7 separate regions of the Homo sapiens genome follow, and regions 2, 3, 4, 5, 6 and 7 are each linked to region 1. Evidence: fine-mapped expression QTL. A gene starts in region 1. Each other region holds a variant in brackets. All regions are shown on one strand. Distances are from middle to middle.

The links. PIP is the estimated chance that this variant, and not a neighbour inherited with it, causes the effect. A credible set is the group of variants that fine-mapping cannot tell apart.
Region 2: its variant is the best candidate, but not a certain one, in a credible set for the expression of PDE4DIP in whole blood (INTERVAL, PIP 0.88).
Region 3: its variant is the best candidate, but not a certain one, in a credible set for the expression of PDE4DIP in sun-exposed skin (GTEx, PIP 0.78).
Region 4: its variant is the best candidate, but not a certain one, in a credible set for the expression of PDE4DIP in lymphoblastoid cells (GTEx, PIP 0.71).
Region 5: its variant is the best candidate, but not a certain one, in a credible set for the expression of PDE4DIP in whole blood (INTERVAL, PIP 0.68).
Region 6: its variant is the best candidate, but not a certain one, in a credible set for the expression of PDE4DIP in whole blood (INTERVAL, PIP 0.61).
Region 7: its variant is the best candidate, but not a certain one, in a credible set for the expression of PDE4DIP in whole blood (GTEx, PIP 0.57).

What each region holds. Positions count from the first base shown.
Region 1 is chr1:148,842,087-148,846,656 of GRCh38, forward strand. PDE4DIP (phosphodiesterase 4D interacting protein) reads left to right here and starts at 2,342. Exons shown (of 47, transcript NM_001395426.1): 1 at 2,342-2,708. The coding sequence starts at 2,689. RefSeq lists enhancers at 1,791-2,512, 2,513-3,235.
Region 2 is chr1:147,960,012-147,964,581 of GRCh38, forward strand. All of the region lies in intron 7 of GPR89B (G protein-coupled receptor 89B), which reads left to right. Among named protein-coding and RNA genes, the nearest start is that of GPR89B, 34 kb to the left of the region's middle. The variant C/G (reference allele first, on the strand shown) is at 2,167.
Region 3 is chr1:148,924,181-148,928,750 of GRCh38, forward strand. All of the region lies in intron 4 of PDE4DIP (phosphodiesterase 4D interacting protein), which reads left to right. Among named protein-coding and RNA genes, the nearest start is that of PDE4DIP, 82 kb to the left of the region's middle. The variant C/G (reference allele first, on the strand shown) is at 2,494.
Region 4 is chr1:148,588,985-148,593,554 of GRCh38, forward strand. NBPF14 (NBPF member 14) reads right to left here. Exons shown (of 71, transcript NM_001395631.1): 4 at 3,568-3,782; 5 at 2,448-2,520; 6 at 1,773-1,984; 7 at 200-409. Among named protein-coding and RNA genes, the nearest start is that of NBPF14, 4.7 kb to the right of the region's middle. The variant A/G (reference allele first, on the strand shown) is at 2,546.
Region 5 is chr1:149,039,335-149,043,904 of GRCh38, forward strand. No RefSeq gene overlaps it. Among named protein-coding and RNA genes, the nearest start is that of NBPF9, 62 kb to the right of the region's middle. The variant G/T (reference allele first, on the strand shown) is at 2,468.
Region 6 is chr1:148,366,919-148,371,488 of GRCh38, forward strand. It overlaps LOC124904396. Among named protein-coding and RNA genes, the nearest start is that of RNVU1-1, 6.7 kb to the left of the region's middle. The variant A/G (reference allele first, on the strand shown) is at 2,310.
Region 7 is chr1:148,821,457-148,826,026 of GRCh38, forward strand. It overlaps a transcript of PDE4DIP not described here. Among named protein-coding and RNA genes, the nearest start is that of PDE4DIP, 21 kb to the right of the region's middle. RefSeq lists an enhancer at 3,561-4,103. The variant GC/G (reference allele first, on the strand shown) is at 2,541.

The sequences.
Region 1 (4,570 bases):
GTGTTAAGTACCAATGTATGAATTTTGAAGGCATACATACATTCAACCATAGCATAATTCAAAAAAGGAGAATGATAAAGGCAGAAAGCTCTTCATTAAGGCATTATTTATAACAGTCTAATATCAGAAACAGCATAACTATGCAATAGTAGAATATTTTAAGTAATCTATGGTCCTACTAATATTATAAAATATTGTACACTCATTAGAATAATAACTATGAACTTTCCCTAAAAACATGGACAAATATTTACTAAGTGAAAGAAGGAGAATATAAACATATACCTAAGCTGTAATCGTAATTATGTAAATAGATATTTAATATATATAGATAATGACTAAAGGGAATTTGGAGAAATTTAAACATTTGTGCTGTAGCAGTGGTTATATGGGTGAATATTTTTCTTCTGAAATCTAACGCAAAAAAATTGTTCTTTTGACAATAAGTATAATTTTTAAAACAACAAGGAAATTTCTCTTCTCAAGAATATACCCATGTGTGTAAGAAAGAGTTGGTGTTTGGATTAAAAGATGCATTTTTTAAAGAGTGGGAAAAAAATGCAACACATTTTTAATATTGAAGATCCCTGGGTATTCTGAGTAATCTATATAACTTTCTGTATTTTTCAAATGTTTTTACAATGAATGTGCTATAAACTTTTGAAAAAAGTTATTTTAAAAATACATGAACGTATTTTCTAGCGTCACTTCTGAGACCCCACAGCTCACCTAGTTAGTGCTATCATTTCTTGAATCCAGTGAGCTGCCTGTAGACAGAGTTCCTCTCCACAACTCGGTAGCCCATAATTTGATTTGAGACAAAGCTAAATATAGCCCCAACTTTGGTATGAAGGATGGGAATCTGACTCTCCCTGCCTTTTCTTCCCCCCCATCAGAGGCAACAGGATATTCTTTTCAAGACAGGTGGCCTGTGAGCCTTGTCTAAGATCAAACTGGACCTTGAAATTTTTCCTGGTAACATTTTGAGCTCTGGAGCAGTGTGGTCCTACCAATAAATCAAGTGTTGGAGGAGTCTAGACTAGGGGCTTTTTAGACAGTTCTGCTAAACCTTCAAATGTTTTGTTATCCTCCCCTCCCCACCCCTACTTTGTACTAGTATGTAGGGGAACCAATCCAAGAGATAACAGACAGATGACAGGTTCCCCCAAGAACACAGACTCCCCACAGTCTCACCAATACCCAGGCATGCCAGGTTCTTCCTGAGTTAAATGCCTAGGAGGCCTGAAAGAATAAATTCATCCTGGAGAAGTCTTGTGGGTCGTAGCTTTAGAAATTCAGGGAACATATCTCTGGGGCCACCCAATGGAGAACACAGCCTGTATCAGAACCTTAGCAGAGACTTTGGGCCTTTTGGGGTCTCAAATTTATCATCTCTGAAACAAGTACAACGAAATTAACATTGCCACATGTGGGCACTATAAAGCCTTTTTCAGATAAAAAAAAAGGTCAGTGATAGTGCTAATAATAACAGTGATTATGTCATTTAATAAAACGGTCTTATTTGAAAGCTAAAAAGGAGCTTCAGGGTGGCAAGCACTCTAATTATAGTATGTCTGCCTTGTTTAAATCTTGATACATAAGTACATGGTACAGGGCCTGAGGCAATGCCATCTCCAAAGAGGCCTTTTCCATGATCTTAAAACAGTCACAAGGGAGTGTCGAGGTCCTGATGGCTACTGTCTTGAGGCTTTTCTAGTGTTCTGGGAGTCAGGAAGCTTCTCCCTCCTTGAAGCTATTGGTAGAGCCCAGTTGCTGGCGAAACTGAAAAACGAGGAGGTAGAATACCCTAAAACAGGAGATGTCTGGGATACAGGCAGCTAATAGGGCTGTAAGGTTTTGTTGGGATGCTTCCCTTCCTGATGAAGGGTCCTGTCCCTGGATTAATGGTGAAACTGGCATGTCACATCTCTAGGAAGACAACATCGTGTTCCATGACCACGTAGGGTATACATCTGCATTCAGCCGGGATTGCTCCTAAACCTTCCTAGACTCCATCTCTGGCTCTGGGGTTACCTGTGGGTGGGGCGATGCAGACACACAAGAAAACCTCCTCTACAAATTCTTCCTGTAGTTGGTTGATTGTATTCTAAGACCTTCGTTGGGATGGGCGAGGGACGGGGCTTGGTACCGCGTCCTCTAAGCTCTCTGCCCTCTGCCGTCATCATTCATCTGAGCCAGCGAGAGAGGGGTCGGGGAGACGCGAGGGTGGTTCAGGGGGCGTGTAACCTGGGCCGATTCTGCCCCAGCACACTGGTTGTCGGGAGCCCCGCCTCCGCTCGCGGTTGACAGCTCAGCTGGTGCCGAGCAACTCGTGCCAGCCAGTCGTGTCTCAGCCTGGAGAGTGCGCGCACCGCGGCCCGGGCAGCCGCTGGCTCCAGCTCACGAAACAGCCCCGGGCGCCGCGCCGCTCTGAGTCCAGCCTCCTACTGAGAACAGTCCCTCCCTTGTGCGGGTCGCACGGCTAGCCGCAGGTTCGGCCACGTCAAATCCATTTTCTAAAAAAGCAGGGAGCAGAGCTCTCTCTTCGCCGCCGACGCAGAAAGGAGCTGGGGAGGAAAAAGCTGCTGCCTTTTGCGCTGGAGATTCGTGGGCAAGGCTTCTCATTTTCCCAGGCTGCTTCCCCTCCCGGGTGAGGAGCGTCCTGAGACTAAGGAAAGAGCCTGGAAAATGGAGCAGACCTGGACGAGGTAGGTGGGCTGTTTCCTTCTCGCCGCGCTCCAGACTTGGTGGTCCTCCTCCCTCCCCTCCCCCAGCGCCCTTAGGGAGAGAGAGGTCGCCCCTCACCACCAGGGTCCCGTGACAGCTTCCCTTTTCTGTAGCCTCGCCCTGCCTGGTTCCCAGCCCACCTCTCTTGGTCATTTTCACATGTTCTGTTTTACGGGGTTTCCCTTGCTTAATGACTCTCCCCTCCACCGAGTCCTGATGTTAAAAATACCCAGGGAGGCCGCCTGGAACTTTCTGTAGAAATGGTTCTCTGTCGTTTCCTTGTTCGTGTGGCTAGAGGGATTCCAGTAGGTCTTCTTGAGAGATATGTTTGATGTCAGATGCTTTGAACAATATCAGGTTTATTCTCACCCTGCCACGTTTTCCTTCTCAGCCTCATCTGTCACTACTCACACAAAGGCAAAGGGACTGAGTGAGCAGAGCCCAGCAGCACTCATCTCCACAACCTCCAGTTGGAGCCCACTTGGGGGAGGAATGGAGAAGGAAAGAGATCAGGGCACCACACTGCTCAGGCTTTATTGAGGCCAGGCAACAGTTGGCTTTTAGGTCAGATTTTGGAGATGGCCTGTGAAACTGCGTTTTCTTCCAGTCCTTCCCCCAGACACACTTTAAAATGAAGCCCCATTCAAGGAAAGGGTAAGGATAAGAGACCATGTATTGAGACAAAGACTTCGTTTCTGTTTTTTAGTGGGTGGGAGGGTAGGGAGACTATTCCAGCGGTGTCTCTATAACAGATACGCTTCCATCTGTGGGATTTAGCTTTGGAGAATTGGGGTGGGGCCAAATGAGCGCTCTGACTCCTGAGAGAGTGAAGACGGTACAAACACAGAAGGTAAATTTGGGGCTTATGCAAAAGACTTGGGTGCTTTTAGTTGATTGCTAAGCTCAACAGGAGTGAATGGTATAATGTGAATATTAAAGAAGGAGCAAATTGAAGCTTAGGGTTTGTTGACAGAAGAAGTAGGCTGTCTAGATTCTGTCTAGATCAAAAGTGATGATTTTACTTTTGGCTCCTTTCTGCTCCTCTTGGGCCTCTCCGAGAGGGCTGTGCTTAGTTCTGGGCATCATTAGATAAAATAAGTACAATCAAGAGACAGGAGGGAACTCAAAGCCATGCCTTGAGGGATGGCCAAAGGAAGGACCTGGGACTCCTGAGTCCGGAGAAATGACGACTGGGAGTGGGGAGGATGTGGTAGCTTCCTTCAAATTTCCGAAGAGCTATTGGTGGTAGAGGGATTGAATCACATTAGAATCTCTTAGGAGGACAGAACAACCGATGCAAGCGAGTTGTTGGGAGGCGAGTTATGGCTCAGTGTAAAGAAAAAGCTTTCTGGCCAGGTGCAGTGGCTCATGCCTGTAATCCCAGCACTTTGGGAGGCTGAGGCAGGCGGATCACCTGAGGTCGGGAGTTCGAGACCAGCCTGACCAACATGGAGAAACCCCATCTCTACTAAAATACAAAATTAGCCGGGCGTGGTCGCACGTGCCTGTAATCCCAGCTACTCCGGAGGCTGAGGCAGGAGAATCGCTTGAACCCGGGAGGAGAAGTTTGTGGTGAGCCGAGATCAAGCCATTGCACTCCAGCCTGGGCAACAAAAGCGAAACTCCGCCTCAAAAAAAAAAAAAAAAAAAAAAAAAAAAAAGACCAGGCGAGGTGGCTCACGCCTGTAATTGCAGTACTTTGGGAGGCTGAGGGGGGCGGATTACGAGGTCAGGAGATTGAGACCATCCTGGCTAACACAGTGAAGCCCCGTCTCTACTAAAAACACAAAAAAAATTAGCCGGGCGTGGTGGCGGGCGCCTGTAGTACCAGCTACTTGGGAGG
Region 2 (4,570 bases), 880 kb before region 1:
TAGAATTTGTCCAGACTACCACTACCCTACACAAGCTCAAGCTCAGCAGAGAATATCAGGGAGTTAGGCTAAAAAGGAGAAGCTAGAAACCAAGAAACTGAGCAGAAACATTAGCTGCTGCAGGTATGACAGATTTCACAGTTTAAGTAAATTAACTGCTTACTAGTGCCAAAAAAATTAACAATTCTCAGAAAAACAAAACAGATTCCAAAGTCACTACAACATATTACCTTCAACCAAAACTTGCTAGACATGTAAAGAAACAAGACGATGTGACCAATGTTCAAGATAAAAAGCAGCCAATAGATACTAACTCCAAGTGGATCCAGATTACACATTTAACAAAGACTTGAAAGTAACCATTACAAATATATTCAAAAAAGTGAAGGAAAGCATGATACAAGTGAAAAGAGAATCCCAACAAAGAAATGGAAACTTTTAAAAAACAACAAAATAGAAATCCAAAGACTGAAAACTACAGTAACGGAAATAAAAATTTTACTAGGTGGGCTTAACAGGAGAATTGAGATGACAGAAGAATCAGATCCATAAAAATTCAGGCTGGGCATGGTGGCTCACGCCTGTAATCCCAGCACTTTGGGAGGCCGAGGTGGTTGGACACCTGAGATCAGGAGTTAGAGACCAGCCTGGCCAACATAGTGAAACCCTGTCTCTACCAAAAATACAAAACTTAGCTGGCCATGCTTTCACGTGCCTGTAGTGCCAGCTACTTGGGAAGCTGAGGTAGGAGAATCACTTGAACCCAGGAGGCAAGGTTGTAGTGAGCTGAGATCATGCCACTGCACTCCAGCTTGGGTGACAGAGCGAGACTGTCTCAAAACATAAAATAAAAATAAAAATTGAGATAGATTAATAGAAATTATTTAATCTGAAGAATAGATAAAAGATTGAAGAAAAATGGCCAGGTAATCCCAGCACTTTGGGAGGCCAAGGCAGGCGGATCACTTGAGGCCTGGCCAACATGGCGAAACCCCGTCTCTACCAAAAATACAAAAAAAATTAGCTGGGCGTGGTGGTGGGAACCTGTAGTCCCAGCTACTCAGGAGATGGAGGCAGGAGAATGGCTTGAACCTGGGAGGCGGAAGTTGCAGTGAGCTGCAGTCACGCCTCTGCACCCCACCCCAGGTGACAGAGCGAGACTCTGTCTCAAAAAGAAGAAAAAAATAGTAAATATTTTTTTAAAAAAAGATTGAAGAAAACTCAACAAAAGTCTCAGTAGGAGACAATATCAAGCAGTCCAACATTCTTGTGATTGGAGTTCTAAAGAAAAGGAAAGGGGCAGAAAAAGCATTGAAAGAAATACCAGCCCAAAACATAAGAAAACTACACCTATGTGTATATATAGTGAAACTGCTAAAAGGCAAAAGTAAAGAGAAAATCTTGAAAGCAACAAGGGGAAAATGATACATACAGGGCAACAATGGGAAAAAAAAAAGTAATGGTTATTCAACAACATTGTAGAATACCAAATGAACATACAAAAATCAGTTGTAGCCAGGAGCAGTGGTGAATGCGCTTGACCAGCTACTCAAGAGGCTAAAGCGAGAGGATTGTTTGAGCCCAGGAGTTTGAGTGCAGCCTGAGAGCAACGTAACAAGACCCCATCTTGAAAATCCAATTTTTTTAAATCAATTGTCTTTCTATAAGCTAGCAACGGACATATGAACATCAAATGTTTAAATACACTACTTACAATCACTCACAAAATGAAATACATAGAAGTCTAACAAAACATGTATATAGGACTTGTTTGCTGAAAATTATAAAACTAATGAAAAAATCAAATAAGATATAAATAAACCATGTTAATAGATTGGAAGACTTGAATAGTAATGATGTTAATTCTCCCCAAATTGGTATACAAATTTAATGTTATTCATTTCAAAATCCCAGCAAGATTTATTTGTAGATATACACAAAATTATTCTAAAATTTGTACAGAAAGGCAAAATAACTAGAATAGTTAATACAATTTTTAAAAAGAACAGTATGAGAGGAATTCCTCTACCTGATCTTTAAACATATTATATAGCTGCAGTAATCAAGACTGTGGTACTGGTAGACATAGATCACTGGAACAGAAAAGAGAACCCAGAAATACCGACACATGGCCAGGCACGGTGGCTCACGTCTGTAATCCCAGCA[C/G]TTTGGGAGGCTGAGGCAGGTAGATCACCTGAGGTCAGGAGTTTGAGACCATCCTGACCAATATGGCGAAACCCCGTCTCTACTAAAAATACAAAAATTAGCTGGACATGGTGGCATGCGCCTGTAGTCCCAGCTACTTGGGAGGTTGAGACAGAAGAATTGCTTGAATCCAGGAGGCAGAGGTTGCAGTGAGCTGAGATTGCTCCGCTGCCCTCCAGCCTGGGTGACAGAGCCAAACTCTGTCTCAAAAAAAAAAAAAAAAGAAAAGAAAAGAAATACTGACACAAATACACCCAGCTAATTTTTGACAAAGATGCAAAAGCAGTTCAGTGGAGGAAAGATAACCTTTCACCAAATGGTGCTAGAGCAATTAGGCGTCCATAGGTTTAAAAAATGAATCTAAATCTAAGTCTTACACCTTATATAAAATTAAAACACGCCAGGCGCGGTGGCTCATGCCTGTAATCCCAGCACTTTGGGAAGCCAAGGCGGACGGATCACTTAAGGTCAGGAGTTCAAGACTAGACCGGTGAACATGGTGAAACCCTGTCTCTACTAAAAATACAAAAAATTAGCCCGGTGTGGTGGCGGGCACCTGTAATCCCAGCTACTGGGGAGGCTGAGGCAGGAGAATTGCTGAACCCAGGAGGTGGAGGTTGCAGTGAGCCGAGATCCGCCATTGCCCTCCAGCCTGGGCAACAGAGCGAGACTCCGTCTCAAAAAAAAAAAAATTAAAACAGATAATAGACTAAAATGTAAAACTATAAAACTTTCAGAAAAAAAAAAAAGAATCTTTGGAATCAAGGGCTACACAAAAAGTTCTTTACTTGATACCAAAAATAAAATCCATGAAAGGAAAAAATGGATAAATTGGGCTCCATCAAAATTTAACACTTTCGCTCTGTAAAAGACTGTTAAGGCCCGGTGCGGTGGCTCACGCCTGTAATCCCAGCACTTTGGGAGGCCAGGGTGGGTGGATCACAAGGTCAGGAGTTCATGACCAGCCTGGCCAAGATGGTGAAACCCCGTCTCTACTAAAAATACAATAATTAGCCAGGCGTGGTGGCGGGCACCTGTAATCCCAACTACTCGGGAGGCTGAGGCAGGAAAATGGCTTGAACCTGGGAGGCGGAGGTTGCAGTGAGCCAAGATGGAGCCACTGTACTCTAGCCTGGGTGACAGAGCAAGACTCCTTCTTAAAAAAAAAAAAAAAAAATACTGTTAAGAGGATGAAAAGATAAGCTACCCACTGGGAGAAAATATTTGCAAGCCACTTATTTGAGAAAGCACTAGTATCTAGAATAAAAAACATTCAAAGCTTACATTTAAAAAAAATGCAGTTAGAAAATAAGCAAAAATGATGAACATTTTATTGTAGAGGATATACAAATGGCACATAACCACATGAAAAGGTGTTCAACATTGTTAGCCATTATGGACATGCCATTAAAACTACATCGAGATAATCACTACACACCTATCAGAATAGCTAAAATAAAAATTAGTGACAACACCAAATACTAATAAGAATGCAGAGCAACTGGATCACTCATACATTGCTGGCATCCATGTAGAATGGTACAGTCCCTCTGGAACACAGTTTAGCTCTTTCTTTAAAAGCTAAACATGCCGTTACCACACCCCAACAATTGCACTCCTGGGCATTTATCCAGAGAAATGAAGATTTATATTCACACAAAAAACTGTACTTGAATGTTTATGAAAATTACGCTGAGTGAAAAAGAATCCCCAAAGAATATATACCGTATGATTCTAGTTATATATACATTTTTGAAATGATAAAATTACAGAAATGGAGAACAGATTCGTGGTTGCCGGAATTAAGGAATTGGAGGTGGGAGGGAGGTAAGCTGTACAGGTGCACCCTGAAAGATCCTTGTAGTGATGGAAATGTCCCGTATTGTGACTCTATCAATGTCAGTATCCTGGTTGTACTAGAGTTTTGCAAGATATTTCAGTTGAGGAAATCTGGGTAAAGGGTACATGGAATCTCTGTATTTTTTCTCAAAACTACATTATGAATCTACAATTATTTCAAAAAGTTTAACTAAAAAAAAGTAATGGCTGACTTCCTACTAGAAACAACAGAGACCAGAAAATAGTTGACTGACATTTAAACCTCAGTAGACATTTTTTAGCTTCTTCTGTTGTACACTACTACCAAACCTCAGCCAAGTGCATATGTTTTTCCATATTAGGAACTTTTAAATGACATTGGGCTAATAACAAATAGATAATTCCTTGTAAGCTACCCTTGTTATAAAGAGGCAATAGTGATGATGATAGTAAAGAAAAGTTGAAGATGAAGGTGATCTAATTCTATAGTACCTCATATGGTTGGGTGGTTTTTTCATTCCTATTCACGCTTCGGAAGGTTTAATAT
Region 3 (4,570 bases), 82 kb after region 1:
ATGAGAAATTACTTTTAATTTGGAGAGATAAAGTAAGGCTTCACAGGGGACGGAGCATTTAACCATGAAGCTGAAGGGCACACAATGATGTGGCACCAAGAAGCATAGGGCATGTTTGGGAAATCCAGTTAGGCTAGCAGATAATAATGGAAGATAAAGCTGGAGAGGTAGATTGAGGTCAAATTTTGAATAGACTCTATTATCAGGCCAGTTGTGTATAATTTAATCGCTGTACAGTTAAAAATCGTTAAAAGGTTTTTTCTTTCTTTCCTTTTTCTTCTTTAGCTGGACCTGCATCACATATTAAATGCTTTTTGAACAGACGGAATGAAATAACCAGAGCTATGCTTTAGGAAAAATTTAAGTAGTAGAGGGACTGAGGTTGGGGAAACCAGATATGAGACTATTCATGTACTCCAGTCCTGGGGAGAAGGAAGAAATACCTAATAGAAGTTTAATTTCAGCTTCATCATTGAAACTTTTTCTTGAGTTAGATGGGCGAACACTCCTTTGGAGGCATGAAGAAAGAGAAGTGCTTTCTTCCCATCTCCCCTTTCTTGAGTACATAAATTTCCTTAGATATCTTGACAAAGAGCCAAGAAGACTTGGTGATAAAATAAGCAAATGCAGTTAATTTGGAATCTACTGATGCTATAAAAGAATTTAACAATTTACACATGAATATTTAGTAATGGAGAATGAATAAATGTGATAAGCTATATGATGATTTTTCTACAGAAAGAAGGTGCAAGAAGGTTAGACTTTGATGTAAGATTATTGCTTTTACCTTGAAAACCCTTCTGGATTTCAGCTATCCTAGTTAGAGAGGGTAAATTGTTATTGTTTTTATAGTTAATAATAGTTATCATTTTCTGAATACTGACTGCATGCCAGGCACTGTGCGATGTGATTTTTGTGCATAATTTCATTTAGTCTCCCTAACATCCTTTGTAGATTGGTATCATTGTTATCTCCTTGATAGATGAGGTGAATGAGGCTCTTAGAGAGGGCAGGTGACTTGTCAAGCCCCCTTCTCGCCTTCAGAGCCTATGCTCTTGACCACTGTACTTACTGCCTCCATATATTCTTTCAAGACTAAATGCAGCACATTCTCTAATTCTATAATTTACCACATTCTACAAAATCAGACAAAACTGGGCAGTGTTTGCTAAGCTGGTCTCTCTGATAAAAGGCTAAAGCAAGAGTGGAGTGTTGGTTTCAGTTACGGCTTTTACCTTGGAGGTAACCCTTCTGGATTTCAATTTCCTTGTCTTTAAACTAAGAGAACTAGAACACAGAAATGCTGAGGTCTTCAAATCTGTGAATCTTTGGCCAAATTGGTCAAAGCATTGACTTCATTTTCTTCAGTAGGATTTAGAACAGATAGAACGTACTAATTTATGTCCTCTGTTTTTCTTCCTTTTAGATCTAAGTATTTTTCCTGGTAAGGCTGGGGTCTCTGACTGGCACTAGTCAGCCTGGACATGAAGGGAAAGTGAATCAAGGTTGTTGCACAGCTGTGTGCAAGGCATTGTTCTATGCTTATCATGCACATTGTCTCATTCAATCCTCACAGAATCCCTCGTGAATACTTATCTTCATTAAAAAGCAAAGCAACCACACTATACTTATAAGAAAACTGAGGCTCATAGTGATTAGTTAACCTGCCCAAGGTCACCTAGCAGGAAAGTGATAGAGCCAGGATTCGAACCTAATTCTTTCTGGCTTTAGGTTGGTTTCATAGTGCCTCTCACTTTCCCTGTTGTTTGTTTATTTTTATTTGAATATTCAAAGATTCCTCATGCAAAAATAGTATTAATAGTAAGGGACTTTTCAGGGAACTTTCTGTTGATCAGTTTATACCTGATAGAGATTCCCTATGTCACATCATGAGACTAAGAACTAGGCAGAGGACATCCATATAGCTCCAGTCATTTGAGACCTCACGTATTTTTAGATATGAGATTTTTAAAAAATCTGCTCAAGCAGTTTTGGCTTATCTGAGGTGGTTTAGCATATCCAGACTTTTCTGATTTATATAAATTAGCCAGGCATAGGAATATCATTGATAATAACACTTCATAATTATAGATTCCATTTTCTTTCATATGAGATTTAAATAGCTTTTTGCCCACTCTTTGTCATTTTCCAGGTGGAGAAGCCTTAGCAGAATTTTACCCAAGGTCACAGAAGTGAATCAATTGGTGGCAGAAATAATAATAAACTTAGGAGTCCTCTTTCTCAGCACCATATCCTGAACACTGAATCCACTTGAAACATTATGGTCTCATGGAAAGCAAACTGCTGTTCCAAATGATAATGCTGTTGTTCTTGATGATGATGGTGATAATAATATTATTATAATTAAAATTATAGTTATACCTGTGTTAGAAACACTGTCCTAAGTCCTTTACATGTATTGATTTATTTATGCCTCACGATCCTCTCAGGTAGGTTTATGAATGAGGAAAATACAATTATCTGCCTATTACA[C/G]ATTAGGAAGTTGCTCCCTCTTTGCATTTCCCACATAATTGAATGCATATTCCTTCACCTCTATGAAGGGCCTCTAGCTTAGGGACTATTTTTTATGAAGACATTTGAATTCCTTTAAGTATTGACCACAAAGCTGGGGACATAGCAACTGTTTAGCAAATCTTCTATTTTACTGATTCATCAATTGGTACAGATGAATTATTCTTGCAGTGCCAGGCCATGGAACTGATATAGAGATCTTAGACTTGTTCTTCATACAAAATTGAAATATGCGTGTTTCCATTTGTTAATCTTTTGGTATTTGTATTGCAGAATAAAATACAGGGTACTCAATTCAATTTAAATTTCAGATAAACAACAAACAATGTTTTAGCGTTTAAGTTATGTCTCAAATATTGCAAAGGATATACTTCTAATGAAACAAATTATTTGTTGTTTATCTGAAATTTAAATTGAAGTAGATATCTTATATTTTTATTTGCTAAATCTGGTAATGCTATTTAGTGTTCATAAAATAATAACTTTAAAGTATATCCTGAAAAGACAGGGCTATCATTCCTTCTTTTGAAGAAATTAGGATATTTTCATCTCACTGGATCTGAATCTATGTTCTAACCTTGGTCAAAAGGTACCTACTTATGAGGGGAACAAACATTCTTCTCAGTATGTCACTAAAAACATACTAGTAATATGATCTAAAATGCCTTGAGTCCAACTGCCTTCCAGCTCTAAAATTCTTTAATTCTAAGTAACTCTCAAATATCTAAACTAGGTTTCTACTTTTCCCAATTAGTATTTGTGTTTCGACCACCCTGCATGGAAACATGGGTTATGAAATGCCTTCACAAGTATGGTAGAAAATATGCTGCTATTGTATGTTGCCTTGGACTTCTAGAAGTCTAGGTGTTGGTGGTTATTATATGGCGATAGTAAAGTAAAATCCTCCCTACTGTTCTAGTACCCACAATACTACTTTTCATACTTTAGCTACTTTACCTTCAGTCTCTCTGTCAACCTCTGATCTAAAGACTTCTTTACTAAATAACATTCTTCTTGCCTAATACTGTATTATGGACTTCATCAGGGAAGGGACTAATCCATCTTTGCATGCTAACGTTTAAGCTGAAATAAAGTAATCCCTCAATTAACATTTTGCAGAAACCTCCTTAGGTTCCCCTACAAACCTGCCCCTATTTTAGTTAATAGAATGCATTCCCACTGACATGCTGGAAATTTCAGCATTGTCTTTGGTCCTCCCTCCAGTCTAATCTGAATCTCACAAGTCATCAAGGCCTGTGGCTTCTGTCTCTGAAATGGCTTTTGAGTCTTTCTCCCTGTACCTCTTGTCCTTAGACAGTCCCCCTCCCTATTCTGGTTAGTTGCCCCTGACCCACCCACCTTCTTCATAATTCCTTCTTCAACATGGACCCGATCATGCCAATACTTTGCTTAAAGCTCCCTGATAAGTCTTTGATTTCTACTGATTATTATCCAGTTTTTTACTTTTTTAATTTTTTTTATTTTGAGACAGAGTCTCTCTCTGTCACCCAGGCTGGAGTGCAGCAGCATGATCTTGGCTGACTGCAACCTCCACCTCCTGGGTTCAAGCGATTCTCCTGTTTCAGCCTCCCAAGTAGCTGGGATTACAGGCGCATGTCACCACGCCCAGCTAATTTTTGTATTTTTAGCAGAGATGAGGTTTCACCATGTTGGTTAGGCTGGTCTCTAAAGCCTGACCTCGAGTGATCTGCCTGCCTTGGCCTCCCAAAGTGCTGGGATTATAGGTGTGAGCCACCGTGGCCGGCCTATCTAGTTGTCTTAGCAGGATTTTCACAAACTAGTTGCAAACTATTTTCTATACTCCTTACCACACACTAAGCCACTTAACCTGCACCAGACACACTTGGGATGTTTTTATTTCCTTATTTCTGTTTCCCCAAATCTTACTTGTTGCATCCTCACCTCAATAAAAATTAATTGTTCCCTGTATAACTTTACCATCAGAGTCCCCTCTCACCTTAAGCAAACCTAATTTATAAAATTCCAATTTTATGATAAAAGCATTGTTTTTAAAAAT
Region 4 (4,570 bases), 250 kb before region 1:
TGATTGCAAACATGGAAAGTTGCTAAATACTTTGGTACCTCTGTCTTCCAACTTTGACAAAATGTTAAAATACCCATTTCTGTTTTCCTAGAAGTACAGGAAGGATGAAATTATTTTTGATGGAGAGAGCATTTAGTGTCTCAGAGAGAAGACAGGATATCATTCATCACTTTCATGATGGTGAGCCTATAGATCTTACTGTATTTCTTCTGTTGGTTGGCCAGGAAGCCGGACAGTTGAGTTAGAAAACATTTCTCTTTGAGGTTTCTGAACTGCTGTTTCTTCTCTGCCAGCTGGGGGCGCAATTTCTCATTGATTTCTAGAATGTTCATCTCTGCCTTCTCGCTGGACAAAGGGCCGGCTGATACCACCATGCTGACGTTTGTGGCAGAAGAGGTGGGGCCAGGGACTGGGGAGAAGAAAGGCAAACACATGATGGGTTAAAAACTGGTGAAATCAAATAGGCTTAATCAGGACTGAGGGATGTCACTGGCAGCCTTGTTTACTTATTTGAAGATGATGTTTCCCTGGTTTCACTCTTGTCATCTCCAGTCTTGATCTCCTTTAAGTCAACTTGTCTTAGCTATGCAGTCACCTTGAAACCAGGACATAAACACTTCTACACTTTTCTTGCTTATACGTTTCTATAAAGCAAGGCTTGGCCCTGAGATTTTTACCCCATGAGTGGCCAATGTTTCTGTGTAGCACAAAAGATTTCATTTTGCTTTTTTAATTTTTTTCTTTTTTGGTTTTTTGTTTTTTGTTTGAGACGGAGTCTCACTCTGTCACGCAGGCTGCAGTGCAGAGGCACAATCTCAGCTCACTGCCACCTCTGCCGTCCGGGTTCAAGCGATTCTCATCCCTCAGCCTGCCAAGCATCTGGGATTACAAGCGCCAAGTAACATGCCAGCTAATTTTTGTATTCTTAGTAGAGATGGGGTTTCGCCATCTTGGACAGGCTGGTTTCGAACTCCTGAGCTCAGGTGTTCCGCCCACCTCAGCCTCCCAAAGTGCTGGGATTAAGATGTGAGCCAGCGCCCCTGGTCAGAGACTTACTTTTTTTTTTTTTTTTTTTTTTTTTTGAGATGGAGTCTCGCTCTGTCTCCCAGGCTGGAGTGCAGTGGCACAATCTCGGCTCACTGCAAGCTCCGGTTCCTGGGTTCATGCCAATTCTCCTGCCTCAGCCTCCTGAGTAGCTGGGACTACAGGCGCCCACCACCACGCCCAGCTATTTTTTTTTTTTTTTGTATTTTTAGTAAAGATGGGGTTTCACCGTGTTAGCCAGGATGGTCTCAATCTCCTGACCTCATGATCCACCCGCCTCGGCCTCCCAAAGTGCTCGGATTACAGGTGTGACCCACTGCTCCCAGCCGAGACTTATTAATAGCTAAGACAAGCCAATGAAAAGGAGAGAGAGTCTAGCCTGACAGAAGTGAATGAGAGTGGGAGGATCATCTCAGCCCATCCTCCCACCTAAGTCTCCTGAGCAGTTGGGACTATAGGCGTGCAGCACCATGCCTGCCTAATTTTTTGTATTCTTTGTAAAGATGGGTTTCACCATATTGTGTAGGCTGGTCTTCAACTCCTGAACTCAAGTCATCGTCCCACTTGGGCCTTCCAAAGTGCTGTGATTATATGTGTGAGTCACAGCACCTAGCTCCATCCTAGTTTCTGACTAAAACAATAACAATATGTGTATATACAGCCTGTCCTCAGAATTGATCTTCCATAGCCTAGACAGAGGTATGAGACACAAGGAAAATAGAGGCTACCTGGGAGAATGTTTAGAGCATCCTGACATTCATCATGAGAGGATTCTCTGTCTACAACCAGAGTTGAGTTGACTTCGTCTTCCTCAAATGTGATTTTGATGTTCTTGTGAGGCTGGTTGGAGTCACAAGGGCCGTGGCTATTTGAACAAGTGATGGCACATTCCTCCAGTGAGTCCTCAGGGACTTTGCTCTCTTCAGCCTTCTGCACCTCCCTGATGAGCCAGGTGGGACAGAGATGACAGAAGATTAAACACAGAGGGATTGGACCCCAGGGAGTCCTAGCTGGTTTTGACAGGTGGCATTAAGAGAGTGGTTCCAGAAAGCAAAACGGAGGTTCCCTTAAAGAGGGAACAGGCAATCCTCTTCTCTCTGCAACAGACCATGGCTGCCATGGGAGCCAGAGAGGAAGAGAGCAGCTGGTGTTCAGTGCACTGAACAGATAGGAGCTGAGGAGGATGAAGACTCAGCTATCCCTGTATGGTACAGACATGACACTTGGCACACATAGAGAAACACGACAGCTGCCGCACCCTGTGTCTAAGCTGGGTTGAATTTCACATACTGTGGCCAAGGGAATGCGGGCATTTGGCCCATCATAGATGCCAGAGAGGGTGTGCCTCCTAGACATTTTCATACGTTACCACCCATTACTTGCTCCTGAGTATTCAGTGTTACCTGGGGGCAGATGATTCCAGTACTTTCTCAGCCTCCTCAACTTGAACATCTTCATCCTCATCTTCGTCATTTTCTAGAAATACAAAATGTTCGTTCAG[A/G]TATTTCCCACTTCACATTCTGCAAGCACAGTCAGCCCAACGTGCACAGAGACATGAACATCTATGTATGGTTCAGCATTGTACTGAAAACTCTCATGTTTTATCTTTCACAAAATGCCCTGGCATGGTTTCCTGGTCCATCGGGCAATGCATTTCTGATGTGGAGGGCCACCATCAAGATGTGGCCAAATACTGAAAAGACCTTTTGCTTCCCATATCACTGGAGGCTTGTGCAGCCTCTCTCTGGACTTTGGCAGCTGTCTCCCCCATCCTGCCACAGATCTGATTCCCAGGAACAGGCTTGGTGTCCTGTCACAGTTCGCATTTCAAACCTCATTCTTTCTCTTAGGAGAGGACAAACTTGTCCCACAGTCCTCTATGCGTCATGAGATTGCACAGGCCCTCCATGTGGCTTCTGCTGTGTTATTCAGGGACATTCTATCCATGGGGAGTGCTCCAGTCTGAAGCACTTCCTACCACCAAATGCCCCCACATCAAGTGCCTTCTCCAACACCACATGGAGAGGGGCTTCATCTCATTTTGAAAAGCATTCGTAAGTGTTCCCATATTTGGATGCTTCAGACCCTTGCAAGAGACAATTTGTCTGCCTTTGCAGATGGAGAGAGAGAAACTCTGAAAAGATAAATCACTCACTGACACTTACTAAGAACATTGCCAAAAATACAGCCTGGGAACCTTCATTCTTAGCCCAGAGCTCTTTTCACTCCAACAAGCGCCCTTCCATCACAGCCTCCTTCCTGTCCTTTAAAACTAGATAGATGCTGCCTCTTGCTCCAAAGACCACCTTCCATCAAGGAAGGAGGGACACTTGCAATACTGTGACCTCCAAACCCATGGGTTTCCCATCTCTGTTCTTACCCAGGAAGTCCTGATCATGTCATGGCCACATAGGTGTAGTAGAAAAAAACCCCACTGATACAACTGTCATTGTGAAAGTATGGAGGTCTGGAGCCTCTCATAAGCCTGGGGTTTTGGGTCATCAGGGCCTATGGCCACCTTACCTGGGCTGAGCTTTTGGACAAGGTGCTGTGCCAGTCTACACCCCTCAGCCAGCTGTTCTTGGAGGTCCTGCCCCTGGGACTTGTCCGGCTCATACGGAGTGAGGAGGGCCTGGAGATGCTCATACAATGAGCGGGAGGCATCTCTCCCTTCCCGTAACTTCTCCCTTAGCTGGGTCAGCTCTCGTTCCTGAGAGTGAACCAGGACTTTATATTGCCTAAGGTGAGACGGTAGAGAAAATTTAAGAGTAGAAAGGGTTGAGTGATCCGTTCAAATATTGCAACAGAGACTTCTGAGACAATGTCATCAAGGAGACCTCCAAGCAGAAGGTCAGCACATGTTGAAAGGAATGACTGTGGCCAAGAGAAAGAATAGAAAATGGTCTACAGGCTTTCCCTCTATCAGAGAGGGCTCCTGCAAGATCCTCGATGATGTTCCATTCATCTTTCTCTTCTGTAAACAAAAGTAGGTGTCTTCCTAATTCCGTTTCAAAAAGACATCCTTTCAGTTCCTCACTCTGGCCATGGACATTTCCATGTGAAAATACACATAGTGCATCTTGCGGCCACTACATACAAAGCCACGTACAGAAATGAGGCCAGGTGCAGATGGGGCGAATTGAAAAGATGAAAGAAGAAAAGAAGGACAGGGTCGAGGAGGCAACATTGATTGAGTGAAAGAATGAGAAGCCGCAGTCAGTCAGGAGGTGATTCTCACTAAGGGTAAGTGGGGTGGCGATAGCACACCATTTTGATTATACTGAATGCTGCTGGGTGGTTCCCACTCCTTTGGTGAATTTTGTGTTATGTAAATTTCACCTCAACAATTACTTGTTTGAAAAAGAGAAAACAAGGCTCTAAGAAACAACTGCAACAGAGAACTTATTATTATCCTTGTTCTCTGATAAATATTTTTGTGTCATGAGCCTGCCATGGCAATTTCTGCCCTTCCCCTGGCCCAGCTTCGTTCTTACTTCTCCCCGCCGAGCTGCTGTACTTCAGAGAT
Region 5 (4,570 bases), 200 kb after region 1:
CCTCCTGGCTTGTAGAGTTTCTGCCAAGAGATCAGCTGTTAGTCTGATGGGCTTCCCTTTGTGGGTATCCCGACCTTTCTCTCTGGCTGCCCTTAACATTTTTTCCTTCATTTCAACTTTGGTGAATCTGACAATTATGTGTCTTGGAGTTGCTCTTCTCGAGGAGTATCTTTGTGGTGTTCTCTGTATTTCCTGAATTTGAATGTTGGCCTGCCTTGCTAGGTTGGGGAAGTTCTCCTGGATAATATCCTGCAGAGTGTTTTCCAACTTGGTTCCATTCTCCCTGTCACTTTCAGGTACACCAATTAGACATAGATTTGGTCTTTTCACATAGTCCCATATTTCTTGGAGGCTTTGTTCATTTCTTTTTATTCTTTTTTCTCTAAACTTCTCTTCTCACTTCATTTCATTCATTTGATCTTGAATCACCAATACCCTTTCTTCCAGTTGATCGAATCGGCCACTGAAGCTTGTGCATTTATCATGTAGCTCTCATGCCATGGTTTTCAGCTCCACCTGGTCCTTTAAGGACTTCTCTGCATTGGTTATTCTAGTTAGTCGTTCATCTAATCTTTTTTCAAGGTTTTTAACTTCTTTGCAATGGGTTCGAACTTCCTCCTTTAGTTCGGAGTAGTTTGATATTCTGAAGCCTTCTTCTCTCAACTCATCAAAGTCATTCTCTGTCCAGCTTTGTTCCATTGCTGGTGCGGAGCTGCATTCCTTTGGAGGAGGAGAGGCACTCTGATTTTTAGAATTTTCAGTTTTTCTGTTCTTTTTTTCCCCCATCTTTGTGGTTTTATCTACCTGTAGTCTTTGATGATAGTGACATACAGATGGGGTTTTGGTGTGCATGTCCTTTCTGTCTGTTAGTTTTCCTTTTAACAGTCAGGACCCTCAGCTGCAGGTCTGTTGAAGTTTGCTGGAGGTCCACTCCAGACCCTGTTTGCCTGGGTATCAGCAGTGGAGGCTGCAGAACAGCAAATATTGCTGAACAGCAAATGTTTTTGTCTGATCGTTCCTCTGGAGGTTTTGTCTCAGAGGGGTACCCGGCCGTGTGAGGTGTCAGTCTGCCCCTACTGGGGGATGCCTCCCAGATAGGCTACTTGAGAGTCAGGGACCCACTTGAGGAGGCAGTCTGTCTGTTCTCAGATCTCAAACTCCATGCTGGGAGAGCCACTACTCTCTTCAAAGCTGTCAGACAGGGACATTTAAGTCTGCAGAGGTTTCTGCTGCCTTTTGTTTGGCTATGCCCTGCCCCCAGAGGTGGAGTCTACAGAGGCAGGCAGGCCTCCTTGAGCTGCAGTGGGCTCCACCCAGTTTGAACTTCCCTGCAGCTTTTTTTTCCTACTCAAGCCTCAGCAATGGCGGGCACCCCTCCCCAAGCCTTGCTGCCACCTTGCAGTTCGATCTCAGACTGCTGTGCTAGCAAGGAGTGAGGCTCCGTGGGTGTGTGACCCTCTGAGCCAGGCATGGGATATAATCTCCTAGCGTGCCGTTTGCTAAGAACATTGGAAAAGTGCTGTATTAGCATGGGAGTGACCCAATTTTCCAGGTGCCATCTGCCACAGCTTTGCTTGGCTATGAAAGGGAATTCCCTGACCCCTTGCACTTCCTGGGTGAGGCGATGCCTTGCCCTGCTTCAGCTCATGCTCGGTGAGCTGCACCCACTGTCCTGCACCCACTGTCTGACAAGCCCCAGTGAGAAGAACCCAGTACCTCAATTGGAAATGCAGAAATCACCCATCTTCCGCATCACTCATGCTGGGAGCTGTAGACTGGAGCTGTTCCTATTCAGCCATCTTGGAACAGCCCCTGGGTTTTGACTCTTTATCCAATTTGCCAGTCTGTGTTTTTTAATTGGGGAATTTATCCCATTTATGTTTCAGGTTAATATTGTTATGTGTGAATTTGATCTTGTCATTGTGATACTAGCTGGTTATTTCCCACCTTTTTTTCTTTTTTTTTGAGATGGAGTCTCGCTCTGTCACCCAGGCTGGAGTGCAGTGGTGTGATCTCGGCTCACTGCAAGCTCCACCTTCCAGGTTCACACCATTCTCCTGCCTCAGCCTCTTGAATAGCTGGGACTACAGGCACCCGCCACCATGCCCGGCTAGTTCTGTTTTTGTATTTTTAGTAGAGATGGGGTTTCACAGTGTTAGCCAGGGTGGTCTCAATCTCCTGACCTTGTGATCCGCCCGCCTCAGCCTCCCAAAGTTCTAGGATTACAGGCGTGAGCCACTGCTCCCGGCCTTATTTTACCTATTAATAGATGCAGTTTCTTCATAGCATAGATGGTCTTTACAATTTGGCATGTTTTTGCAGTGGCTGGTACTGGTTGTTCCTTTCCATGTTTAGTGCTTCCTTCAGGAGCTCTTGTAAGGCAGGTCTGGTGGTGACAAAGTCTCTCAGCATTTGCTTGTCTGTAACAGATTTTGTTTCTCCTTCACTTATGAAGCTTCATTTGGCT[G/T]GATATGAAATTCTGGATTGAAAATTCTTTTCTTTAAGAATGTTGAATATTGGTCCCCACTCTCTTCTGGCTTGTAGTGTTTCTGCCAAGAGGTCCGCTCTCAGTCTGATGGGCTTCCCTTTGTGGGTAACCCGACCTTTCTCTCTGGCTGCCCTTAATATTTTTTCCTTCATTTCAACCTTGGTGAATCTGACAATTATGTGTCTTGGGGTTGCTCTTCTCAATGAGTATCTTGTGGTGTTCTCTGTATGTCTTGAATTTGAATGTTGGCCTTCCTTGCTAGGATGGGGAAGTTCTCCTGAATAATATCGTGAAGAGTGTTTTCTAACTTGGTTCCATTCTCTCTGTCACTTTCAGGTACAGCTATCAAATGTAGATTTGGTCTTTTTACATAGTCCCATATTTATTGGAGTCTTTGTTCATTTCTTTTTACTCTTTTTCCTCTAATCTTGTCTTCTCACTTTATTTCATTAATTTGATCTTCAATCACTGATATCCTTTATTCCGCTTGATTGAATTGGCTATTGAATCTTGTTTATGCTTCATGAGGTTCTCATACTGTGGTTTTCAGCTCCTGCAGGTCACTTAAGCTCTTCTCTACACTGTTTATTCTAGTTAGCCATTCATCTAACCTTTTTTCAAGGTTTTCAGCTTCCTTGTGATGGGTTAGAACATGCTCCTTTAGCCCGGAGAAGTTTGTTATTACCGACCTTCTGAAGCCTGCTTCTGTCACCTCATCAAACTAATTCTCCATCCAGTTTTGTTCCCTTGCTGGTGAGGACTTGTGTTCCTTTGGAGGAGAAGAGGCGCTCTGGTTTTTGGAATTTTCAGCCTTTCTGCTCTGGTTTCTCCCCATCTTTGTGGTTTTATGTACTACTTTGGTCTTTGATGTTGGTGACCTACAGATGGGGTTTTAGTGTGGATGTCTTTTTGTTGATGTTGATGCTATTCCTTTCTGTTTGTTAATCCTTCTAACCAGGCAGGTCCCTCAGCTGCAGGTCTGTTGGAGTTTGCTGGAGGTCCACTCCAGACCCTGTTTGCCTGGGTGTCACCAGCAGAGGCTGCAGAATAGCAAATATTGCTGCCTGATCCTTCCTCTGGAAGCTTTGTCCCAGCGGGGCACCCACTTGTATGAGGTGTCTGTCGGCCCCTACTGGGAGGTGTCTCCCAGTTAGGCTACACGGTGGTCAGAGACCCACTTGAGGAGGCTGTCTGTCCATTATCAGAGCTCAAATGCCACGCTGGGAGAACTACTGCTGCCTTTAGGGCTGTCAGGCAGGGACATTTAAGTCTGCAGAAGCTGTCTGCTGCCTGTTATTCAGATATGCCCTGCCCCCAGAGGTGGAATCTAGAGGCAGTAGGCCTTGCTGAGCTGCAGTGGGCCCTGCCCAGTTCGAGCTTCCCTACCACTTTGTTTACACTGTGACCATGGAACCAAGTACTCGAGCCTCAGCAGTGGCAGAACCCCCTCTCCCTGCCATGCTCCAATGTCGCAGGTTGATCTCAGACTGCTGTGCTAGCAGCAAGCAAGGCTCCATGGGCATGGGACTTGCCGAGGCAGGCACAAGAGGGAATCTCCTGGTCTGTCAGTTGCAAAGACAGTGGAAAAAAGCACAGTATTTGAGCAGGAGTGTACTGCTCCTCCAGGTGCAGTCACTCACAGCTTCCCTTGGCTAGGAAAAAGAAATCCCCCAACCCCTTGCACTTCCCAGGTGAGGTGACACCCCACCCTGCTTTGGCTCATCCTCTATGGGCTGCACCCACTGTTCAACGAGTCCCAGTGAGATGAACCAGGTACCTCAGTTGGAAATGCAGAAATCACCTGTCTTCTGCGTCTATCTCACTTGAAGCTGTAGACCGGAGCTGTTCCTATTCAGCCATCTTGGAAGCAACCCTCTTTTTTTTTTTTTTTGTATTTTGGTAGAGACAGGGTTTCACCATATTGCCCAGACTGGTTTCAAACTCCTGAGGTCAAGCCATTCTATAAAAGAAAATTATATTTGTTTTATCTGAGTTCCTTCCTCAGGAAAGGACTCTCAGTCCTCTCAAAAAGCATCAGAGACCTGAAACTCAGCCAATCACAGCATCCAGACAATGAGATGC
Region 6 (4,570 bases), 480 kb before region 1:
TATAGGGTGATTTTACCAAAACCACCAAGAGACAACCCCTACAACTTAAAGGAGCCCTAATGGTGTGTGTATTCCAGTCAACAAAAAAGAGACTAACTCTTTCAGGTGCAGTGAGCACTGGAATTGTAACTGATTATACAGGCCAGTATCTTGGGTGAAAGCGGACTACCACAGATGTCAGCTACTTGCCATCTCTGTCAGGAAGATTGAGTTACCTTTAAGTGAAAATCTCCTGACAGATGTTCACTCTGGCAGGGTTGCCTTTTACAAGAGAAACATGAATCCGTGTGTCAACGCACGTAAGTTTAATGGCACAGATTGGTCAGTAATACCTGTTGTGAGTCAGGTGCAGTGGCCCATGCCTGTGGTCCCAACTATTTGGAAGGTTGAAGCAGAAGGATGGCTTGAACCCAGGAGTTCAAGGCTACATTGAGTCATGATTGTGCCACTGCATTCTGGCTTGGGGAATAGAATGGGATCCCATCTCAAAAAAATGTATAAAATAATAATAATACCTGATGTGGTCCCTTCCAACAGTCTTGGGGGGAATATTTTATTTGGTGTTGTTTCTAGTAAACAACATCTCCAGGTTATAGGCCGTGATTTTTAGTATTTTCATCTCCCAGGAGTGCATTATGAAAGGAATCCTTTATTAATGTGGAGTTCTTAGTAAGTTTTGAGAGATCTTAGCAGTAATGGAGAAAGTCACCTTTAAGAAGTGCAGATTCATAAGCGCCTTCATCTAACCACTGCATGGGTCTTCCGTTATTATTTCAAAGAGAGGGAGTGTGGACATTTTCCAGAACCAGTGGGAGATCCTTGGCCAAGAAAGGTTAAAAACTTCTGTTAGCTTTGCCAACTGAGTTTTTATTGTGTCATTAGTACATTCCATCGGCCCAGAGGATTATGGGTGACAGGCACAATGGAAATGTTGGGACATAGGCAAAACATTACAAATGGATCCAATTACCTGACCAATGAAGTGTGTTCCTCAGTTGCTATGGCATTCAGATGGCACTCCCCATGAGGAATTACCTTTTCTTTTCTTTTTTTTTTTGAGATGGAGACTAGCTCTATTGGAAGGCTGGAGTGCAGTGGCACGATCTCAGCTCACTGCAACTTCCGCCTCCCAGATTCAAGCAATTCTCCTGCCTCAGCCTCCTGAGTAGCTGGGACTACAGGTGTGCACCACCACGCCTGGCTAATTTTTGTATTTTTAGTAGAGACGGGGTTTCACCATGTTGGCCAGGATGGTCTCGATCTCTTGACCTCGTGATCTGCCCACCTTGGCCTCCCAAAGTGCTGGGATTACAGGGGTGAGCCACTACGCCCAGCCAGGAATTACCTTTTCTAATCACAATCTACCTACTACTTGGGCTGTGGCTCATTGGCATGGAAATGCTCACCCCAGTGAGCACGTACAAATTAACACCAGAAAGTATCTGTGACCCTGAGATGGAGACAGCTGGATAAAGTCTAACTGCCATGTCTCGAAGGGTCCTAAAGTTAAAATGTCCTTGTGACCCATGAAGGGGCTTTCCAGGGTGATGTTTGGGACAAACAGTACCACAAGAATAAACCTTTTCTGCAATCATAGGCAATGATTTTCAATACCATTGCTTTCCCCATGCTAACATTTTATCTGATTTCCAATGAGGCAGCTTATGAAGTACTGTATTCAGGGTAATTGAAGCCTAAGGGGTGGATCAGTGTATCATTGGGCCCATACCATAAGCCTGTTTCTGGAAGAAACTTGTTCCCTTTATCCTTCCAGAGATCCCTCTCCTGCTTAGGAGCTCCCACTTACGCTTCTTTTTTTTTTTGCTAGAGTCTAGCTGTGTTACCCAGGCTGGAGTGCAGTGGAGCAATCTCGGCTCACTGCAAACTCTGCCTCCCAGGTTCAAGCAATTCTCGTGCCTCTGCCTCTCAAGTAGCAGGAATTGTAGGCATGTGTCACCACACCAGCTAATTTTTGTATTTTTAGTAGAAACAGGGTTTCATCATGTTGGCCAGGCTGGTCTCAAACTCCTCACCTCAAGTGATCCACCAGCCTGGGCCGCCCAAAGTGCTGGGATTACAGGCATGAGCCACCATGTCCAGCCCACTTTTACTTCTAATGAAGTCTTCAATGGGTCATAAGTCAGCAAGGTCATTTCGAGAAGTTCTGTGTCTGATGCCACCTTCAGAACTGCATTCTTAGCTGCAGCATCAGCAAAATGATTGTCCTTGCTCTCCGGAATATCTAGTTTTGAATGACCAGGAATTTTGATGATGGCCAAAGATAAGGGTTTTCAAATTGCTTCTAAGAG[A/G]TCAGAGATTTATTGGTCATTTTTGATGGCTTGACCTGATGAAATCAGATACCTATGTTGCTTCTAAAGCATTCCAAAATCATCACCTACTCCAAATGCATCTCTGCTCCCAGTGTAAATGTTAGGCTGAGGTGGAAGGATTGATTGAGCCCAGGAGTTCATTCAGGTCCAGCCTGGAAAACACAGCAAGATGTCCTCTCTACAAAAAAAAAAAAAAAAAAATCAAAGAATTAGCTGGGCATTGTGGCATGCACCTGTGGTCCCAGCTACTCGGGAGGCTGAGGTGGGAGTATTGCTAGAGCTGAGAGGTTGAGGATGTGGTGGGCCATGATGGAGCCACTGCATTCCAGCCTGGGTGACAGAGTGAGACCCTGTCTCAATAAATCAATAAATAAATCTTAACCATTTAAAATATCAATGACAGATTTGTTTGGCCTTTTAAGTGCATTGCTGAATTCTCCAATCTACATATTGGGGAACAACCTGGGTAATGGCAACATGGAGGTATTTGGCAAAAATGCAGACCCTTTCATTGTCTGCTTCTGTCTGTTTTTAAAAACCCTCTAAAGGATTATTCCAATTCACCCTTTCCAACCATTTAGTGGCCCTGCCTTCTTACACCAACATGTGAATTAATTGATAAAGATCAGAATATCCAGGCTCAAAAGTTTGGACAATTAAGTCAAATTTTCTCCTAAACCCTATAGGATCTTGGAGGTTGCTTTTGAATTAGAAAGGGAAAATTCAGCTGGGTGCAGTGGCTCACGCCTGTCATCCCAGCACTTTGGGAGGCCAAGGCGGGTGGATCACAAGGTCAGGAGTTCAAGACCAGTCTGGCCAAGATGGTGAAACCCCCTCTCTACTAAAAATACAAAAAAATTAGCCAGGCATGGTGGTGGGCACCTGTAATCCCAGCCACTTGGGAGGCTGAGGCAGAGAATTGCTTGAACCCGGGAGGCGGAGGTTGCACTGAGCAGAGAAAAAAAAAAAGAAAGAAAGAAAGAAGGGGAAAATTCATGTAAATTTTCATCAGGGAAGTCTTTTTTTTTTTTTTTTTTTTTTTTTTGATACAGAGTCTTGCTGTGTCACCCAGGCTGAGTGCAATGGCATAGTCTTGGCTCACTGCAACCTCCACTTCCCAAGTTCAAGAGATTCTCCTGCCTCAGCCTCCCGAGTAGCTGGGATTGCAGTCATGTGCCACCATGACTGGCTAATTTTTGTATTTTTAGTATAGATGGGGTTTCACCATGTTGTCCAGGCTGCTCTCAAACTCCTGACCTCATGATCTGCCTGCCTAGTCCTCCCAATGTGCTGGGATTACACGCAAGAGCCACTGCGCCCAGCCCAGGGAAGTCTTTTTATAATATTCTTAATTCACATTTTGGTGAAGCAGTATACAGAATGGTAGGCTCCCCTCTTCCTGTGGGTTTTACCTTGAAAGGGGCTGTCAGAACAGAAGTTTCAGGGAAGGGGCCAGAGCCCTGGGGACTTTCCTCAGGTGATGGTGATGGAAGAAGAGGCAAGGCAGGACCAGAGGGCTCAGGTAAGGGAGACTATGCAGGTGCAGGGGCAGGAGGAGAAGCAGCAGTTGGAGGCGAAAGAGACAAAGCCTCCTCAATATTTCTCAATTCAGAAAACGTGTCAGATGACTTCCTTCAGCTTACTTCCTCACTGGAGGCAATTTTCTCAGTTCTTTTAGAAATTTCTAGGTATCATTGGAAGTATGTCTCCCATTTAATTTGGTTCTAAAACCAAATTTTTTGGCCAGGCGCGGTGGCTCATGCCTGTAATTCCAGCACTTTGGGAGGCTGAGGTGGGTGGATCACGAGGTCATGAGATGGAGACCATCTTGGCCAACATGGTGAAACCCTGCCTCTACTAAAAATACAAAAATTAGCTGGGCATGCTGGCGTGTCCCTTTAGTCCCAGCTGTTTGGGAGGCTGAGGCAGGAGAATCGCTTGAACCTGGGAGGCGGAGGTTGCAGTGAGCCGAGATCATGCCGCTGCCTTCCAGCCTGGGTGACACAGCAAGACTCCATCAAAAAAACAAAAAACAAAAAAACAAAAACAAAAATTTTCCAATTGTGCACACTAATAAATTATTTTAAGCATTTCAAAAGATCCCAATTTTCTTCATTCTGCTTATGACTTAGGAAATGACCAGGAAATGGTTAGGTGGGTCCAGTTTCTTGGATATTTACAAGAGGATGCTTCATAAGTGTTATACATAAACCCAGCTGGTGTTTCTAAAGGTGGTTGTT
Region 7 (4,570 bases), 21 kb before region 1:
ACAAATAAATAAATATACAAATAAAGGGATTTCTGATATTAATAAAGTTTATTTTAAAAAAATTTCGTTAGAGAGGAATTAAAGCAGGAGGTGAAAGAACTGCAAAACCCCTAAGGTAGAAATAAGCTTAGTGTGTTTGAGGAAGAAAATGGCCAGTGCAGCTGGAGCATAATAAATAAGAGGAGGGGGCAGAGGTGAACCTGAGCCAGGTCACCTGAGACCTCATAGGCCGTGGTAAGAAGTGGATGTTATTCTAAGGACATGGGGAAGCCAATAAAGATTTAAAACAGGAACATCATATGATCTGAAAAATGTTAAAAAGTCACTTTGCTATTGGAAAACAGACCTTAGGAGGCCAAGAGTGGAAGGAAGGGAGCTGCTTTGCTGGCTATTGCAGTAAGTAACACCAATGTGAGATCATAGCGATTTACATCATGGCGGTAGCAGTGGGGCTGGTAAGAAGAGAAGGACTGAGCCTTCTAGCAGATAACTTGGTACCCTGCAGATCCCGAAAACAAAACCAACAAAGAAGATAACCGGGGGATAAAAAGAGACAACTTCATGGTTGGAGTCTTTATATTAAGTTTTGTTTGAAGCCTCTGTTTGAGGTTTTTTGCTTCACCCTGGTGGAGGTTTTCTCCCCACTCATTATGAGGGTGGGAGTTAGATGGTGGGACAAAGAGATAGAGGTCACTCAAATGAAAAGGACCCTGGATAGTATTAAGAATATCTTCACACAGGGTTGCATATGGTGACCAAATGGTGGTAGCGCCCACGGTGGGAGGGGTAGCAGACATGGTGATGGTATTTCCCTAGAACAGGGGTCCCCAGCCCCCAGAGCATGGACTGGTACTGGTTCTGGCCTGTTAGGACCCCGGCTGCATAGCAGGAGGTGAGTGGCAGGCCAGCGAGCATTACCCCTGAGCTCCACCTCCTGTCGATCAGCAGACCAGCAGCTGCATTCAATTCTCATAGGAACGGGAACCCTATTGTGAACTGGGCATATGAGGGATCTAGGTTGCCTGCTTCTTACGAGGATCTAATACCTGATGATCATTCCAAATCCATCCCCCACCCTGTCCATGGAAAAGTTGTCTTCCTTGAAAATGGTTCCTGGTACCAAAAAGGTTGGAGACCACTGCCCTAGGACACTTTAACCTCTTCATGAAGTTGCCTGTTCTCTTAGATTTATTTGCTAGAGCAGCCTCATAACTATAGGTGATTCATACTAGGTCTCACAGGAGTTCCAAACAGAATTCTGTAATGATTTTATATTGTGAAACCTGACATCTCATGGCAGCAACATTATCATTATCACCATAATTACATATATAATTACATGATTAATATTTATCGAGTAAATGATAAATGCTAGGCCCGATCTTAAACATTTCATAAGAATAATATTATTTAATTTTCACTATAATTCTGTGAGAAAGATGCTATCGTGATCCCGTTTTATAGAGAGGTTAAGTAATTTGACAAGATCACACAGTTATGAAATGGTAGAAGTTGTGTTTAATTGGCAGGTGTTGATTTTCTGTTTCATGTGTATTAGAGTAATTGTTTTTGTGCATCTTGTATGTTTTTAAAATTTTTTCCTAGGTTTGCTTTTTGTTAAAAAGTAAACCAAAACAAAACAAATGAAGACTATAAAACGAAAACCTTTGGTAGAACTTGGGCAAAAATGGTCTGGTCTTCAAGTTAGCATACCAAGTATGAAAATGTCATCTGTTTAAAAATACTAAGCTGCATGATTAAAATTTGACCTTGTGAAAATTTGCTTTCTAATTTATATGGCACACCACCTGAAGGCCAGCACAGAGAAATATATGACCTGTTTAAAACGAAAGGAAGTGTACCTGGGCACGACCAAGAATCTATCAAAAAAGCATCAGAAAGCTCCATATTAAGGTTAATAAAAATAGGTGAACCGCACATTTCAAAGGAGAATCTGGGACACTATTCAAATAACAAAGACTTAAAGCAGGCTGGGTTCACTGCCCAGAATAATAGGCACACGCATTTACAGAATGGGGGGATTTTGTCCACTGTACGCATGCTCATTCACACTCACATCTAACCCTACAACACCAGCTCCGAGAAAGTGGATGCAATGAAGGAAATGTTAACATGAGCAGTGACCCTAGTGTACAAACAATATCAAATTTTAGATTCTTTTTGTTTCCATGATAGTCTAATCTGTATTATCTTTTGGCTATATCAACCTTGACTTTGAAATCTCCAAATAAACATTTCAACCAAAATGTACGGCTATATTGTAATTTCAGCAAGAAGGGTTTTCATTGTTTGCACATATCTTCAAAAAGAAAAAAAAGTGTGCTTGGTAGTAATCAAAAGCACATTCTCGAGTGAGCATGCTTTGGTGGTATATTCTACAGACTGGGAAAGGTCCTACTTATCACTCCCAAATTTTCAGCATACATCTAGTTTCCTGATGTGCAGCGTTAAAAAACTGCTCTGACTTCTTTGTCTTTCTTTACTGTAGAGAGAATAATAGCTTCTTTGTGAATGGGAGA[GC/G]TGGGTCTCTAACTCCACAGAATGACCTTGGATTGGGGAAAGGTTCAGAAGTCTGTGTGTTTGTTACTATTACTATTGCTGCATAGCAAATCACCTCAGTGGCTGAAAACTGCAAGTATTTAGTACTCACAGTTTTGGAGGGTCAGAAATCTGGGAGCAGCTTAGCTGGTTAGAATTGCCTCAAGTTCTCTCATGAGGTTGCAGTCAAGCACTCAGCTGGGGCTGCTGTCATCTCAAGACTCGACAGGGGCTGAAAGGTCCGTTTTCAGACTCACGCACACGGTATTTGGCAGGCTTTAGTTCCTGTCCACACAATAGGTCTGCTTATAACATGGTAGCTTAGTTCCCACAGCACAACTGATCTAAAAGAAAGAGAGCATGCATACTCCAAATGGAAGCCACAGTTGTTTTTGCTTTTTAAAAAATAATCTAATCTCGGAAGCAACATTCCATCACTGCTGCCCTACTGTATTCATTACAAATGAGTACTAGATCCATCCCAGACTCAAGGCGAGGGAATTACACAAGGGTTTGATGACCAGGGATCACTGGGGACCAACTTAGAGACTGCCTATTACAGTCTGCATCCATTACCTGAGCTCCTGGACACCAGAGGAGCAGCAGAATTAGTTCTCCCTTTCTTCTTCTGGAACAAGACTAGTACAAACTAAGCACAAAAGGGAAGGGGGAGTATAACCAGAGCTGAGGCTGAAGACTATGCCAAGCTATGTAAGCCTTATTAAAGATTTTTGTCTATATCCTCAGAACAATAACAAACTCAGACTCTGCTTGCCTCAGTCATCCCTTCAACCACCGCTGGAAGACATTGCTGGCAGTGACTGGCCCTGGGGACTTCAGTGTCTTCTTGCGTGCCTTAAAGGCTAAGGTTCACATCTATGGCTCCAGTGTCCTACCCGAGGGTAGGTTAAAAGAATGACATGGGTGACTCAAGACTAGAGAAGTGCCTGGCCCTGTGAGGCAGACATATTAATAGTTTGAGAGGCAAGAAGTCGGGCCCCAGGTTCCCACCATGAGGAACTAGGAAGCCATAGAAGGAAAATGCAAATGCCACACACCTGCAGGTGCCTGGCGGGTAGCATAAATAAGTGAACCTGCTTAGGTGTAAGGGCATAGGGAATAGTGTTGGTGACTGTGACTGTGACTTTCTGGACCATTGACCAAACAAAATACATCAGTGAAGGCAAGTCTCTAGGATAGTACCACCAGCAGGGGGCACCTGCAGATGGTTTTCATTGTCACAAAATTAGGTTTGGTACTTGGGGATGAGCAGCTATTCACAGTAGAGAAGCTCCAGTTTGAAGTATCCTACACTACTTGAATTCACTACAGGCTGCATGGAGGAAGCAGCATGGCCACTTTGATTTCCAGAACTACCCGTACACAATGTGAAAAGAAGAATAGAGGTGAGGTGGATTTGGTTTTGGAGGTGAGTGAGCAGGTGCCTCCAAATAAGAGTTGGGGCTCAAGGTTTTCTTAAAAAAGATAGACTCTTGAAAAATTGCACTCTAGTTACATTAGTGCCAACTCATGAGGTCACCTGTTCTTTTTTCCCTCTCCCATTATCTCCCCTTTCTACCCCATTCTACCCTCTCCCTGATGCCCTATACATCACAGAAACTTGCCCTTGAGACGTAAGACTGTTTGGAAGGAGGTTGGAAGAGCTGGCCTTGGCTCAGAGAGTTGCTTTTACCTTGTGGTATCTTAAAGGTGCCACCTGATGTCCAACCATTCATAACAGACAGAGAGCTGTTGCCAACAAGGTCAGCAGAACATAGCACTAGAGAGCACCAGAGGAGACACCTAAAGATGTGGCTTTTGGCACATCATCTGGGGATGAACAAGTTGGGCCTGGACTAGGACGAAGCAAGTAAGACACTCCCTGAATCATGAAAATGCAGGGTCAGATCCTGTCTTTATTTAAAGTTTTGATATTTTGTTCATTGCGGATTTTTTTTGCGTTACTATTTTTCTAAAATATTGCATTAAAATATGATTTATCTTGATTACC